Linked DNA regions of Homo sapiens: all the other regions are reported to be linked to region 2. The links are microRNA targets in miRTarBase. Many come from high-throughput screens and were not tested one by one. Region 2 holds a microRNA gene; each other region holds the end of a gene's coding sequence.
The links. Region 2 holds the annotated microRNA hsa-miR-4744 (UCUAAAGACUAGACUUCGCUAUG, at 2,114-2,136, shown strand). A microRNA usually pairs through its seed, bases 2 to 8, with sites in the 3' UTR of a target mRNA and lowers its output. Matches are read on the target gene's strand: a 7mer-m8 pairs with bases 2 to 8, a 7mer-A1 pairs with bases 2 to 7 and ends in A, and an 8mer does both.

Region 1: miRTarBase lists CDCA4 as a target of hsa-miR-4744. Seed matches in the 3' UTR shown: 7mer-A1 at 2,543-2,549 and 8mer at 2,450-2,457.
Region 3: the mRNA of ZC3H13 is a reported target of hsa-miR-4744. Seed matches in the 3' UTR shown: 8mer at 494-501.
Region 4: the mRNA of SARAF is a reported target of hsa-miR-4744. Seed matches in the 3' UTR shown: 8mer at 256-263.

Annotation. Positions count from the first base shown.
Region 1 is chr14:105,008,336-105,011,518 of GRCh38, forward strand. CDCA4 (cell division cycle associated 4) reads right to left here. Exons shown (of 2, transcript NM_017955.4): 2 at 1,238-3,183. The coding sequence ends at 2,869. Among named protein-coding and RNA genes, the nearest start is that of CDCA4, 11 kb to the right of the region's middle.
Region 2 is chr18:49,048,690-49,051,872 of GRCh38, reverse strand. It overlaps MIR4744 (microRNA 4744), which reads left to right and starts at 2,105; the gene lies at 2,105-2,186. All of the region lies in intron 17 of DYM (dymeclin), which reads left to right.
Region 3 is chr13:45,954,296-45,957,478 of GRCh38, reverse strand. ZC3H13 (zinc finger CCCH-type containing 13) reads left to right here. Exons shown (of 19, transcript NM_001330564.2): 19 at 182-3,014. The coding sequence ends at 352. Among named protein-coding and RNA genes, the nearest start is that of ZC3H13, 97 kb to the left of the region's middle.
Region 4 is chr8:30,060,928-30,064,085 of GRCh38, reverse strand. SARAF (store-operated calcium entry associated regulatory factor) reads left to right here. Exons shown (of 6, transcript NM_016127.6): 6 at 173-1,083. The coding sequence ends at 198. Among named protein-coding and RNA genes, the nearest start is that of SARAF, 21 kb to the left of the region's middle.

The DNA.
Region 1 (3,183 bases), not on the chromosome of region 2:
AAATAAACGTGCATTACTTTATAACCCTAGAAACCGAACTTCTGAGGTAGAAGGGGCTCCGAAGCTGTGTGCAAGGCATGCTGCACGTGAGGGGTACCCACCACACGTCAGGAAACGCCCCTGGGAAACTGTCAACTAACATGCCCGCTCCCCTCAGTTTGGCCAGAAGCAAACCGCAGAGAACAGTGCCAAGTTTAGATGACTGGAATTTGTATTTCTGTTTCTGAATAAACATTTTGTAAACAAAATTATTAAACACTTGGAAAATTTCTTCCCAATTAAAGTCAATTTGTACCTACAGACTTAAAAATACCACATACATGGCCAGGTGCGGTGGCTCACGCCTATATTCCCAGCACTTTGGGAGGCCGAGGCAGGTGGATCACCTGAGGTTGGGAGTTCGAGACCAGTCTCATCAACATGGTGAAACCCCATCTCTACTAAAAATATAAAAATTAGCCGGGCGTGGTGGCACATGCCTGTAATCCCAGCTACTTGGGAGGCTGAGGCAGGAGAATCGCTTGAACCTGGGAGGCAGAGGTTGCAGTGAGCCAAGGTCACGCCATTGCACTCCAGCCTGGGCAACAAAAGTTAAATCCTGTCAAAAAACCAAGAATGCCAGGCGCGGTGGCTCACGCCTGTAATCCTAGCATTTTGGGAGGCTGAGGCAGGTGAATCATGAGGTCAGGAGTTCGAGACCATCCTGGCAACACGGTGAAACCCTGTCTCTACTAAAAATACACCAAATTAGCTGGGCGTAGTGGTGGGTGCCTGTAATCCCAGCTACTTGGGAGGCTGAAGCAGGAGAATCGCTTGAACCTGGGAGGCAGAGGTTGCGGTGAGCCAAGATCGCGCCACTGCACTCCAGCCTGGGAGACAGAGCGAGACTCCATCAAAAAAAAAGAAAAAAAAAAAACAAAAAAAAACAAAGCCACACACACGGACTAAACTTGCAGAGAAATGATGCTTGGAAAACAGCTGATTACTCAGCCACTGCGCACCACGGTGGAAACAAGCAGGCTTTGGTGTACGGTGTCACAGGTGAACACGGCGAGTCCAGGGAATGAGACTCCGGCTACACTTCTAAGTCACAGCAGCTGTTCTCTCCTGTCTGTGGTCCTTCCACAGACCCAGTCTGTTTTCCGACCAAGCACCCCTAAAGCGCTCAAAAGTCACATTCTCTGAGCAGTTTATAATTTTGAAGGCTACCAAAACAGGCACTACAACTACTACTAATGCTGAACAAATGATGTTTCTAAAAGATAAAAATGCTATACAGAAACAAAATAGTGCTTTAGATTTATTCCTATAAAACACATACCCTTTAAACTAGGGTCCATGAGGATTAACTTTCGACATCGGGGGCTGTCAGAGGTCGTGGACACCCCCAACTCCAGCCGGGCGCTGAACAATGTAAAAAGAATTTGCTCTGCAACCCTGTGGGGGGGGGAAATAAAAGTAACCCAGCGTCCATTTAATGCAGCCAAGTGCAATTCCTTTCCCCACCTTAGAAAGCACCACCAGATAATACAGCAGAACTGATCCTGCAGAAAGGTTGCTGGAGGGTCAGGCCGTGGTCGTAACTAACACCACATTCCCATTTTGTTTGCTGGATAATTTTTTAATAAAGTGAGGTTTACATCACTGATATTTAAGAATGGCTATATGCACAAAAGAAAACACACCTTTTTGGTTAAGGGGTGAGGAAGTTAGAGAAAGCATGAGAAACAGGGAGCATGTGGGGTGAGGCGGGGCAGGAGTGGAAGGCTGCAGGCACCCCCAGCTCACTCCCTGCCTGCGGCAGCACCCATGACACTACAGATCAAGGGGTTATGAATGACATGGATTCAGATTTCTTTCATTCTAGACTTCAACCTAGCCTTAACCTTTTGTTTCAGCACCAGTCTAACAGAGCAGCGCAGGCGTTTCTCATCCAGCAGCAATGCTACTTCCTCACCCAGGGCAGGTGCATGGGCTGACCCTGATGGGAGCCTCCAGGAACACTGCCTTGAGAAGGCACCACCGAGGGGCTATGAGGTCCCTGAAGACCAACTGGTGCCTGTGATCTACAAACAGACAAATATTTGACCTTTGTCTTCAATGACATTTACATATAAATAGACATAAATAAAATCCTCCATAATTTACTCTTAGGTCTAGGAAGATGTGGCTGTGTGCGGCTCCTGATTTTCACCCAGGTCTCACTGCAGCGCAGGACATAATGAAGAAGTATCACACACACATTTAAAGTAAAACATGATACATTCACACTGTTGACTGAGACTGTAGTGATGCTCACTGCAAAAAACAAAACAAAACAAAAAACCCTTATTTAAACCTTAAAAAAATGAAACACACCAACTGCAATTGTTTAGGCTATAAAAGTTCTAATGTAGCAGCAAAGGATGTTTATAGAAAAAATATACTTTTAAGAAAATAGCTGAAAAAATCTAAAGAGATAAGGTATAAAAAGTTTAAAAAATATATCTTAAGACAAAATACTGCCCAAAACATGTAAAACTGAATTGTAAAAATTCACCTATCTAAAGGTAAAAGGAGGTTGATGCAGCTGCGGCTCACCGTCCTCTACAGTGGGGGACACAAAGAGACACGAGGGGCCCAGGGCTGTGGGGACGTCAGAAGACAAGAAGCCTTCCAGAACAGCCTCTGCCTGGCGCTCCACAGGGGGGAGGTGAGTGGGACGGGCCTAGGGCTGCAGCCCCACTGGTAATGGGCTGTTCTGGGATTTCTCAGAATCAGCAGACAGGGCAGCAAGGCTGGGCCGCTGGCGGCAGGCGCACCCTCCGTGGGAGCCAGTGCTCACGTGTCAATGCGTCAGAGGCGGCTGTGAGCACTCAGGGCTCCTGCTCAGGTCTCCACCAGGATCTCCACCACGTGGTCCAGCTCGCCCAGGTCGGACTTGCAGCTGGAGCTAGGGCCTGGGGTGGCCGGAGCCAAGCCCTCGAGCCCTTCGCAGGGGCCCGGCCTGGCACCCCCCATCATGCCTGTCAGTACTGTGTCCAGGTCGTAGTAGGGGCTGTCCACGTCTGAGAACAGCTCTTCCATGCAGCTGGGGTTTTTAGTCTCCAGCGTTTCAAATATCTGATCAAGTGACTTGTGAAAGCTTCCTCTGTTTTCTCGAGGGCCATCCATCTCCCAGGCGCTGCTCTGCAGGTGCCTTGG
Region 2 (3,183 bases):
GCTCTTTCAGTCCCCCCATGACCAGTAGTGCACACTTGGGAGACAGCAGTTTGGGAACCCAGTCTGTGGAGGGGACCAGGCCTTCACTAGCCAGCACGGACGGGGGCAGCGCCTGGAACCTCAGCCCACTTAGCTGGGAGCTCCCAGGCCACAGAGCAGCTCAACAGCAGCTTCAAGCTTGTCTTTGTTTTCAGCAGTTGGGAGCCTTAGCCTTTAAAAATGTCTATTGTCAACCTCCAGGACATTCAGATACCATCTCCAATGCAAAGTCTGTCTAAGTAGAAATCAACAAATGCTTAACTTCAGGGTTGCAGCTGAACCCAGGCCCAACCCATTCAACCCTTTCTTCAAGTGAACCCTGCAGAGCCTAGAGGCATGGCAGGGAATACACCTTTAGACCTTACTGGTCTAAACATAAAACCACACCTAGTCAGAATTGGAAGGAGCTCAAAGGTCCTTCATTTTTCACAAGGCTAGAAAACTGAGTCCTGAGAAATGCTATGACTTGCCCCAAACTGCCCAGCTTGCCACCTGCTGAGCCAAGACAGAGCCAAGGCCTCCTGTCCCCAGCCTGGGCTCACCTGGTGATCAACCCCATCACTCACAGTGAGGAAACACGGCCACAAAAGGTTAAGTGAGTTGTTGGTTAGGAGGATATTGAAGAAACATCTGAAGCTCATTATTATTACTTGAAAGACATGAAAACCTAGTGTCCACGTTGGCCACAGACATTCTAAGGGCACACTCAGGTCCCTTTTGACCCTGGGGAGGCTCCAGAGGAAAGGCCTGAGCTTCTTTCAGCTTCTGGCTCTACCACTCACTGCTGTGGCCTCTTTTTCATGTGACTTATTCTTTTGGGGTCTTGGTTTTTTAAATCTCTATAATGGAGTGAATAATACCTGTGTCACAGGATTTTTGTGCAGATTTTACGTCATTCGTTCATTTATTTAATTCCTCATTCAGCAAACGTGCCTTAAGATGTCAGTGACATGCCAGATGCTCATAAGGTCCCTGCCTTCTTAGAACCGATGTTTGTTCTAGTTGGGGAAACAAATGGTGCACAAGTCAACAAATAAGAGAAGCACCAATTGCACTGAGTGTTGTGAAGGCAATAAGCCAGTGAGCCGAGAGAGGCCACTTTTGTTTTTTATAGGGTGGTCATTAGTGAAGCAGGAAGTGCCTGGTACATGGCAGCTCTAGTCAGAGTCATTTCCACTGAGCTTCCTACTGGGCTGTCTGTGAACTTCAAGCAGAAGGCTTCATTCCTGGTCAACCACAGCCCCCGCAGCCCCGTGTGGCTCAGGGAGTTAGCTGCCATGCTGGATGTTGTTGAACGTGCTGCACGATCTTACAGGAAGATGGTAAACACCTAGGTCACATACATTGCAGAAGTTACCCCTTCATAGATGGTAAACCCTTCTTAGTTACCCCATTAGATTGCAAAAGCCTAATGTCACATACACTGTAGAAGTTACCCCTCTGGACTGGGTGCGGTGGCTCATGCCTGTAATCCTAGCACTTTGGGAGGCCGAGGCAGGCAGATCACCTGAGGTCGGGAGTTCAAGACCATCCTGACCAACATGGAGAAACCCCGTCTCTACTAAAAATACAAAAAAAAACTAGCCGGGCATGGTGGCACATGCCTGTAATCCCAGCTACTAGGGAGGCCGAGGCAGGACAATTGCTTGAACCCGGGAGGCGGAGGTTGCAGTGAGCCGAGATCGCGCCATTGCACTCCAGCCTGGGCAACAAGAGTGAAACTCCATCTTAAAAAAAAAAAAAAAAAAAAAAAGGAAGTTACCTCTCTGTCCACCTTATCATAACCATAAACCCACTCCAGGGCCAATCTTCTCCCCTCCAGTTGAGCCTGACTCTGAGACAGAGAAAGAAGGCAGTTCTTCAGCACCTGCCTTCTCTTACTGAAACAGCTTTGTTCTTTAAAAATGTTGATGAAGATGAGCTCAGTGCCTTTAAGCCATTTGTCAGCACTTGTGTCTGGTTTTCATGCAGGGAGGCTTATTTCTATTATTAAGAGTCAGTTGCCAAGTGAGAAGTATCCATTTGGGTGCATAAGAGAAATGGGCTTGTAAGAGAAATGGGCTCTGTAATCACATCTAAAGACTAGACTTCGCTATGACCAGGCCATAGTAAACATCATAGTATGTCTAGTCTTTAGGTTTGATTACAGAACATTATAAGAGCATCCCTTATACTTGCATGTCATTTTAATGTCAGTAATAATAGCCAACATTCATTAAGTACTTACTCTGTGGTGGGTACTATACCAAGCCCTTCACGTGGCTTATCTCATCCGATTGTCAGTACAACTCTGTGAAGTAGGAAGGATGGTTACATTCCAAGCCTCAGAGTATAGTAAACCTTAAGAGCCTGATCTGAGCAAGGATGTGAGACTAGTCCAAGGTCACTCAGCTAATAAGGACTGGCCTTTTAGCTCTTGAAGGCTGGGACCCCATGTGTCCTAGTGGCTGTATTTTTAGTCCTGTGCTTACTATACACTAGGCCCTCAGTAAGTATTTACTGAGTGAATGAATGGGAAAAGATGGGACTGAAACTCAAATTATCTGCCTGCCTTTGGAGTTGCTTTTTGTAGTTGTTTCAAAGATGAAATGAGTAACTATATGTAAATTCTTTGAATATGCCTGCCATATAATAGGTAATCAATTGTATTAGCTATAAATGCTAGGTATAATCTCAGAATTTATTATTTTTATGGAGAACTTCTATGGAAATAATGATCAGCTTGAAGAATAACTTCATAATAAAATCTACACGTCTTCTCTTGACAGATAAAGTTTATACTATTTTATACCATTTTTGTGTACTATCATATGCTATATACTGGATGTTCCTGAGATTTTGTTTGCAACATTTGAAAGCCATAGTTACTACCAGCCAAAGAGTGTACTTTCCGATTAGAGGAAAGATCTCTGTTGCTGAGAGATGTCCTGTGCCTTTGTGGAGGGTGAGATGAGTTATTGTTTCAACATCAACTTGAGGCATTTTCACTTCTGGTTGTACCAGGTGGTGGGAAGGATAGTCATGGGGGTGCCAGGTATTTTTTCCAGATCCTCTTTTGCAGGATTTAAGGGCAGTCTTTGACTCATTACTCCTTCTAGCGGAATAGTCATCAGAGTTTCCCCAAAGCCATGAGGGCAGGAAAAC
Region 3 (3,183 bases), not on the chromosome of region 2:
CAAAGATTCATTGAGCCCAAACACATTTTCTAATTTTGCTTTGAAATCCAATAAAGCTAATTTAATATCCAAAATGAAATACTCTTATAACTTTGATATTTTGGGTAGAGGTTAACCTGCCCATCTTTCCTACTAATAATGTACATCTTTTTTAAAGTTTGTTTTTGTTTTCTTCAAATAGGGCACCATAAAACAAGCTTACACGAGTGCTCCAATGGTAGACAATGAATTACTTCGATTGAGTCTTCGGTTATTTAAGCGGAAGACTACTTGCCATGCTCCAGGACATGAAAAGACTGAAGATAATAAACTTTCACAGTCCAGTATCCAACAGGAACTGTGTGTGTCTTAAGACCGAAGTTCAATATGGTATTTTTGGTACTGTCTTCCTTCAGCAGTGCATATTCTTTTGCAAAGTTCTTTGGTTTGACAAGCATTAGTGACAAAGGCAGAAAAGATTTATCAGCCATGCTAAAAGAGTGAAGAATTTTGATCTTTAGAGACACTAGTTTTGGCCAACTTAAGATTTTACGTTAATTTTTACATAGTATTTGACACTCATGCAAAATAATGTGAAAACATCTAGATTTAGTAGTTTATTCTGCGCCTTTTGTTAAAACTGAAGATTTTGGAAAATGGTTGTCACTGCTCTTCCAGCCTATGAATATTTTTGTGAAATGGAACCATGGATTTATGTCTGGATCATCCATACAGAACCAACAATTTTATTCAAAAACAATGTGTTCATCAAAGTAATTGCTCACATTGTGCAGTACTATGTTGTACAGACCACGTGAAAGGGAATGCTGGTCTAGCTGGCGTGGTATGTTTATAGGCGAATTTCAGCAGAAGGAAGCCAAAATAGTTTTTTCCTTTTGAAAGTTTTTTAAAAATTATTTCATGGGTCTTTTTTTTAATTAATATGTGTGCATTGTTACAATGTATGTTGGATGTCTTTTGACCCTAAATGCTTTTTTTGTTATCAGAGATTGTGTACTATTTTTATTTTTAATAAATGTATCTTCCCTTTCCTTGTTTTAGATTTACTTTGCTCTTCGTTAATCTTATTCCTGATGATCTAGAACATTAGTCATCAACATTACATGTTTCATGCTTCAGATATTTTACTGCTTGTGTCCTTATTGTTGGACAGCTTTAAACAGAGTTGATGTACTTCAAATATAGCTCATTGATACTTAAGGCATCTTCTTGGAATGTGGCTTTTGAAGAAAAAAATTACTCAAAGCAAATCAAGAGTTAACAAACCTAACGTAACCTGAGGTTTAATATTCTACTATCATATTTTTTAGAGCTATAACTTTTGATTATATTAAACTGCCTCCAGCTGTACTATGTAAAACAGATTTACTTTTAAAAATTACAGTATACCTGCTTTGTTCTATATGTATATGTTTAACTCATGAAGTGGACTCTTAGAAGGATTTGAAATGGACTCTGGCCACAGAATTTGTGAGCAGACAGTAGTAGTGATAATAATAAAAGAAGGCAATCAAAATTTAATTTTATCATGCCCTCTCACAGGTTTGTGTTATAATTGTAAGCCCATATTACTTGTGTTAGTAGTTTTGTCTCTATAGGTAACATAATGACAGTGGTGTAAAGTTTCTGTTCAAGAAACATATGTTGTAAAGTTACTTTATACAAGATACCTGCCAAAGGAAATGGTCTTACTTTCAAATGACTTTGAAAGCATGTATAATTGCAAACAGAGCAGGAGAAGACTTTAATCAGAATTTCCTTGTGTCCTTTTCCTTTACTAAGTGTTTTGAATAAAGAAAAAAAAAATGTATGACCTCAGAGAATGAATACCCTTCAGGAAGCCACTTCCTGATTTTAGTGGATAATATTGTTCTCTGTAGCACAAAGATTTAAAGTCCTAGAATTTCTAATCCTAGTTCTCAGAATTGTAGAATATGACAAAAATAATGGTTTCCCCATTTGTCCACTGACTTCAGGGATATTTCACAAGTTATTTATTTATAGAATGAAAACTATGTAGTTAAATCTGTCATTCAGTTAAACCTGTTGTCTTTCAGTTTGAAATCTTTTTGTTATGTATGTTGCAAAAGAAAATTTAGAACTATTCCTTTGTTCACTCAGTCACAGCATTCAGAGCTTTATGTTTCCAGTGGAAATGTACTGTTCAGTCTCAATTTCTTTTAATTCAACCATTCTCAGTATTAGTAACATATACCTATAAAATTTTTCTAAAGCAAAATTTTTGATTGAATTTCTCATAAAAGCTCTTGGACCATAATTAAAGTCTCAGTTAAACTGGTATTCCCGAAAAACAATCTTCCAGTCTATAAATTGTTTGCTAGTACAATTAAAAGGTCATCTATCTCATAACTGACGGCTCAGGTCTGTCCAGTTGCCATAATTGCACAACTGGATTCCAGCTGCTGGTAATAAGGAATTGTGTAGATAGATAAAGGGCAAGAGTATGTCTGCAATCCAAAATAAATGAGAGTTAACACATAATTAGCCTTTTGATTATTTTGGCAGCTATCCTCACCATTTAGTAAAGGGTATACTAACAATACCCAACTTTATTTAACAAAGTTTTGTAAGCATACCTAAGTAGTAACTTGATATGCTGAAAAATCTGACCTGTCACTTCGCTTCACTCTGACCAGTAATTGCAGATTGTCGTCACCATCCTAGCCTATGACTACATTAGGATTTTATGACTTATTAACTTGAAAATCTGTTCTGTAAGTGGCATTGGTAGAATCTCCCACTTTGCTCCTCACTGTCCAATTGTGTAAAGATTAAGGTACATACTATTGTTGGTGATGCTTTTACACCTCAACTTGCTATTTTAAAAGGTTATATGAACCCCTCCCACTTTTAAGGATATTCCCTTTTACTGATTTTCCTAGCTAAAATTATATAGCCATCTTTCTAAATATTGTATTTAAATCTGATCTAGGACTTGCCTTATTTTATCATTTTTCTTTAATAATCTCCAATAAACTTTCTTTATTCATTAATTTTGTTGATCTTTCCATTTCAGTATTTTGAATGACACTCTGGGGAATCCAAGTTTAAATGGTGAAATATTTTTATTAAATAACTTTCTACATGCATCTGTAAACATACTTTCTCAACTTTATTGAGCTGTTTCTTTCATATTTTTTTTTCTTTTTTAAATTATTTTTA
Region 4 (3,158 bases), not on the chromosome of region 2:
CTGTGGGAGGCGATGCACTGTCCTGCTTAGCCCAGTTCCACCTAGTGGCACACTCTTTCCTTTCCTCCTATCTCATTCATTTGCTGACAATAAACATGTATGACTTGTAATTTTATAAGCAATTCTAATGCATTTTTAAAAACTAATGTAAATTTTACCCCTCTCATTCTAGGATATGGTGGTACCAGGAGACGATAAAGTAGAAAGTTGGAGTCAAACACTGGATGCAGAAATTTTGGATTTTTCATCACTTTCTCTTTAGAAAAAAAGTACTACCTGTTAACAATTGGGAAAAGGGGATATTCAAAAGTTCTGTGGTGTTATGTCCAGTGTAGCTTTTTGTATTCTATTATTTGAGGCTAAAAGTTGATGTGTGACAAAATACTTATGTGTTGTATGTCAGTGTAACATGCAGATGTATATTGCAGTTTTTGAAAGTGATCATTACTGTGGAATGCTAAAAATACATTAATTTCTAAAACCTGTGATGCCCTAAGAAGCATTAAGAATGAAGGTGTTGTACTAATAGAAACTAAGTACAGAAAATTTCAGTTTTAGGTGGTTGTAGCTGATGAGTTATTACCTCATAGAGACTATAATATTCTATTTGGTATTATATTATTTGATGTTTGCTGTTCTTCAAACATTTAAATCAAGCTTTGGACTAATTATGCTAATTTGTGAGTTCTGATCACTTTTGAGCTCTGAAGCTTTGAATCATTCAGTGGTGGAGATGGCCTTCTGGTAACTGAATATTACCTTCTGTAGGAAAAGGTAGAAAATAAGCATCTAGAAGGTTGTTGTGAATGACTCTGTGCTGGCAAAAATGCTTGAAACCTCTATATTTCTTTCGTTCATAAGAGGTAAAGGTCAAATTTTTCAACAAAAGTCTTTTAATAACAAAAGCATGCAGTTCTCTGTGAAATCTCAAATATTGTTGTAATAGTCTGTTTCAATCTTAAAAAGAATCAATAAAAACAAACAAGGGGTTTAGTCTCATTCTTTCTATTAGCCTAGGCGCAAATAAATGTTACTTTTTGTTTTTTTAAACCCTTTTTCCCAAAGGGGAAAGTTCATGCAGAAGTTCTGTCTCCCTAAACAGTAATTTTATGTGGTAGTCGTACCTTAGTCTTTTGGTAAATGTTTTCAAAAAGTAATTTACAAATGGTGTGGAAGCCTCTGCCAAAAAATAGCGTTTGAAAAAAATAATTAAATCTCCAAGCCTCCCAACCCATCAGAGATTGCATGGTTACACTTAGTTAAGCTTCATAACCTCAAAGCCCCAGTTTTATATCTTATGTGTTTAATGATTTTTGCCATTTAAAACTGCAGTTACTTTTCACCAACCAATAAGAACCAATTTAAAACAAACCCTTATTAAGACTATTGCATAATAAAACTATCCTCTTTTCATCAGTAAAACAGTAGAAATTTTAACTGATAGAAGAAACACAGCTTTACTTTATGTATATCCCACTAAATCCTTACCCCATTTCTCCTTAGTAGAAGGATATGGAATAAAAGAGAATGTAGTTTGTTGCTTTTTTTTTTTTTTTGAGACAGAGTCTCTCGTTCTGTCACCAGGCTGGAGTGCAGTGGCATGATCTCGGCTCACTGCAACCTCCTCCTCCTGGGTTCAAGCAATTCTCCTGCCTCAGCCTCCTGAGTAGTTGGGATTACAGGCTCCTGTCACCAAGCCCAGCTAAGTTTTTGTATTTTTAGTAGAGATGGGGTTTCACTGTGTTGGCCAGGCTGGTCTCGAACTCCTGACCTCAGGTGTTCCACCTGCCTCAGCCTCCCAAAGTGCTGGGATTACACACGTGAGCCACCGCGCCCGGCTTACTCAGATTGTTTTTGAACATAGTACTGCAGATCATTGGGATTGTAAGAAAATAATGAGTTAATGTAAAGAGAGTTGACTGTTCTTCCTGTAGGCGATAGCTTTAAAAAAAAAGAGTTGACTTGGTGGCTTTTAGATTACTCTGGGGAGCCCTAGTGGTGTTCTTATGAGGTTCTTTAGAGGGTCCCTGGAGGGAAGGGAGGAAAAGAGGCAGAGTATAGGTTTCAAGCCCCACCTGAGTGTTCCTCTTTTATCTGTTGTGTATTTGTACTTCCTTGTCATTTAAGAACTTTTTTTTTTTTTTTTTTTTTTTGGTAGAGATGGTGTTTCACTATGTTGCTCAGGCTAGTTTCGAACTCCTGGCCTCAAACAGTCCTCCCACCATGGCCTCCCCAAGTGCTGGGATTACAGGCATGAACCACTACTCCCGGCCCTTTGTTGTCTATGGAAAAGGTTCACATGTATCACTTCCCCAAATGTAAAACTTAGAATAATAAGATAGTACAGTCTAAGGCAGGAGGATTGCTTAAGTCCAGGAGTTCGAGACAAGCCTGGGCAACATAGCAAGATTTCATCTCTACAGATTATTATTTTAATTAGCTGGGCATGGTGGTATGCACCTGTAGTCCTGGCTACTCCAGAGGCTAAGGTGGGAGGATCACTTGAGCTCGGGAGATTAAGGCTGCAGTGAGCTGTGATTTTGCCATTGCATTCCAGCCTGGGCAACAGGGTGAGACCTTGTCTCTTAAAAAAATAAGGTGAGAGCATTGATTGAGAAGCAGTGGGATCCTGAAAAGTGGAATGGGGACATAAGAAAGGATCCTGATGAAGCCAGTGAAATGGAACCCCTAAATTCTGCGTAGTATTTCTTGCCGGTAGAAGCAGCCCTTCTACTTCTGTCTGAGAAGGTTAATCCTACTTTGCCTGAAGGATCTGTAATGGTCTCTTCAGAGGTGTTCGTTACCAGGCATCACTCATCTGCCTCAGGGTCTGCCCTTGCTACCTGCTTTGCTCCTAGATGTACAGCTAGACTCACGTTCCAGTAGGCACCAAAGAGTGAGGTACAAATTATGATCCATGAGGAGGTACCCTGCACACCAAAAGGACTCCATGATTTTCCCAGTCTATACAGATAGAAATCTGGGGAATATGTGTGGGAATGGATCTTAGAGTGTAGGATATGGTGGTAGGACTGTAAAGTTCAGTCAGGACAACTTTATTGATATTGGCCCACTCAGCAGAGATTCTGGATTCAATATTTGAGAGGTTAGAAAGGACTCTTAACAGTTTAGTTGGTTTGCTGAACATGGACTCGAAG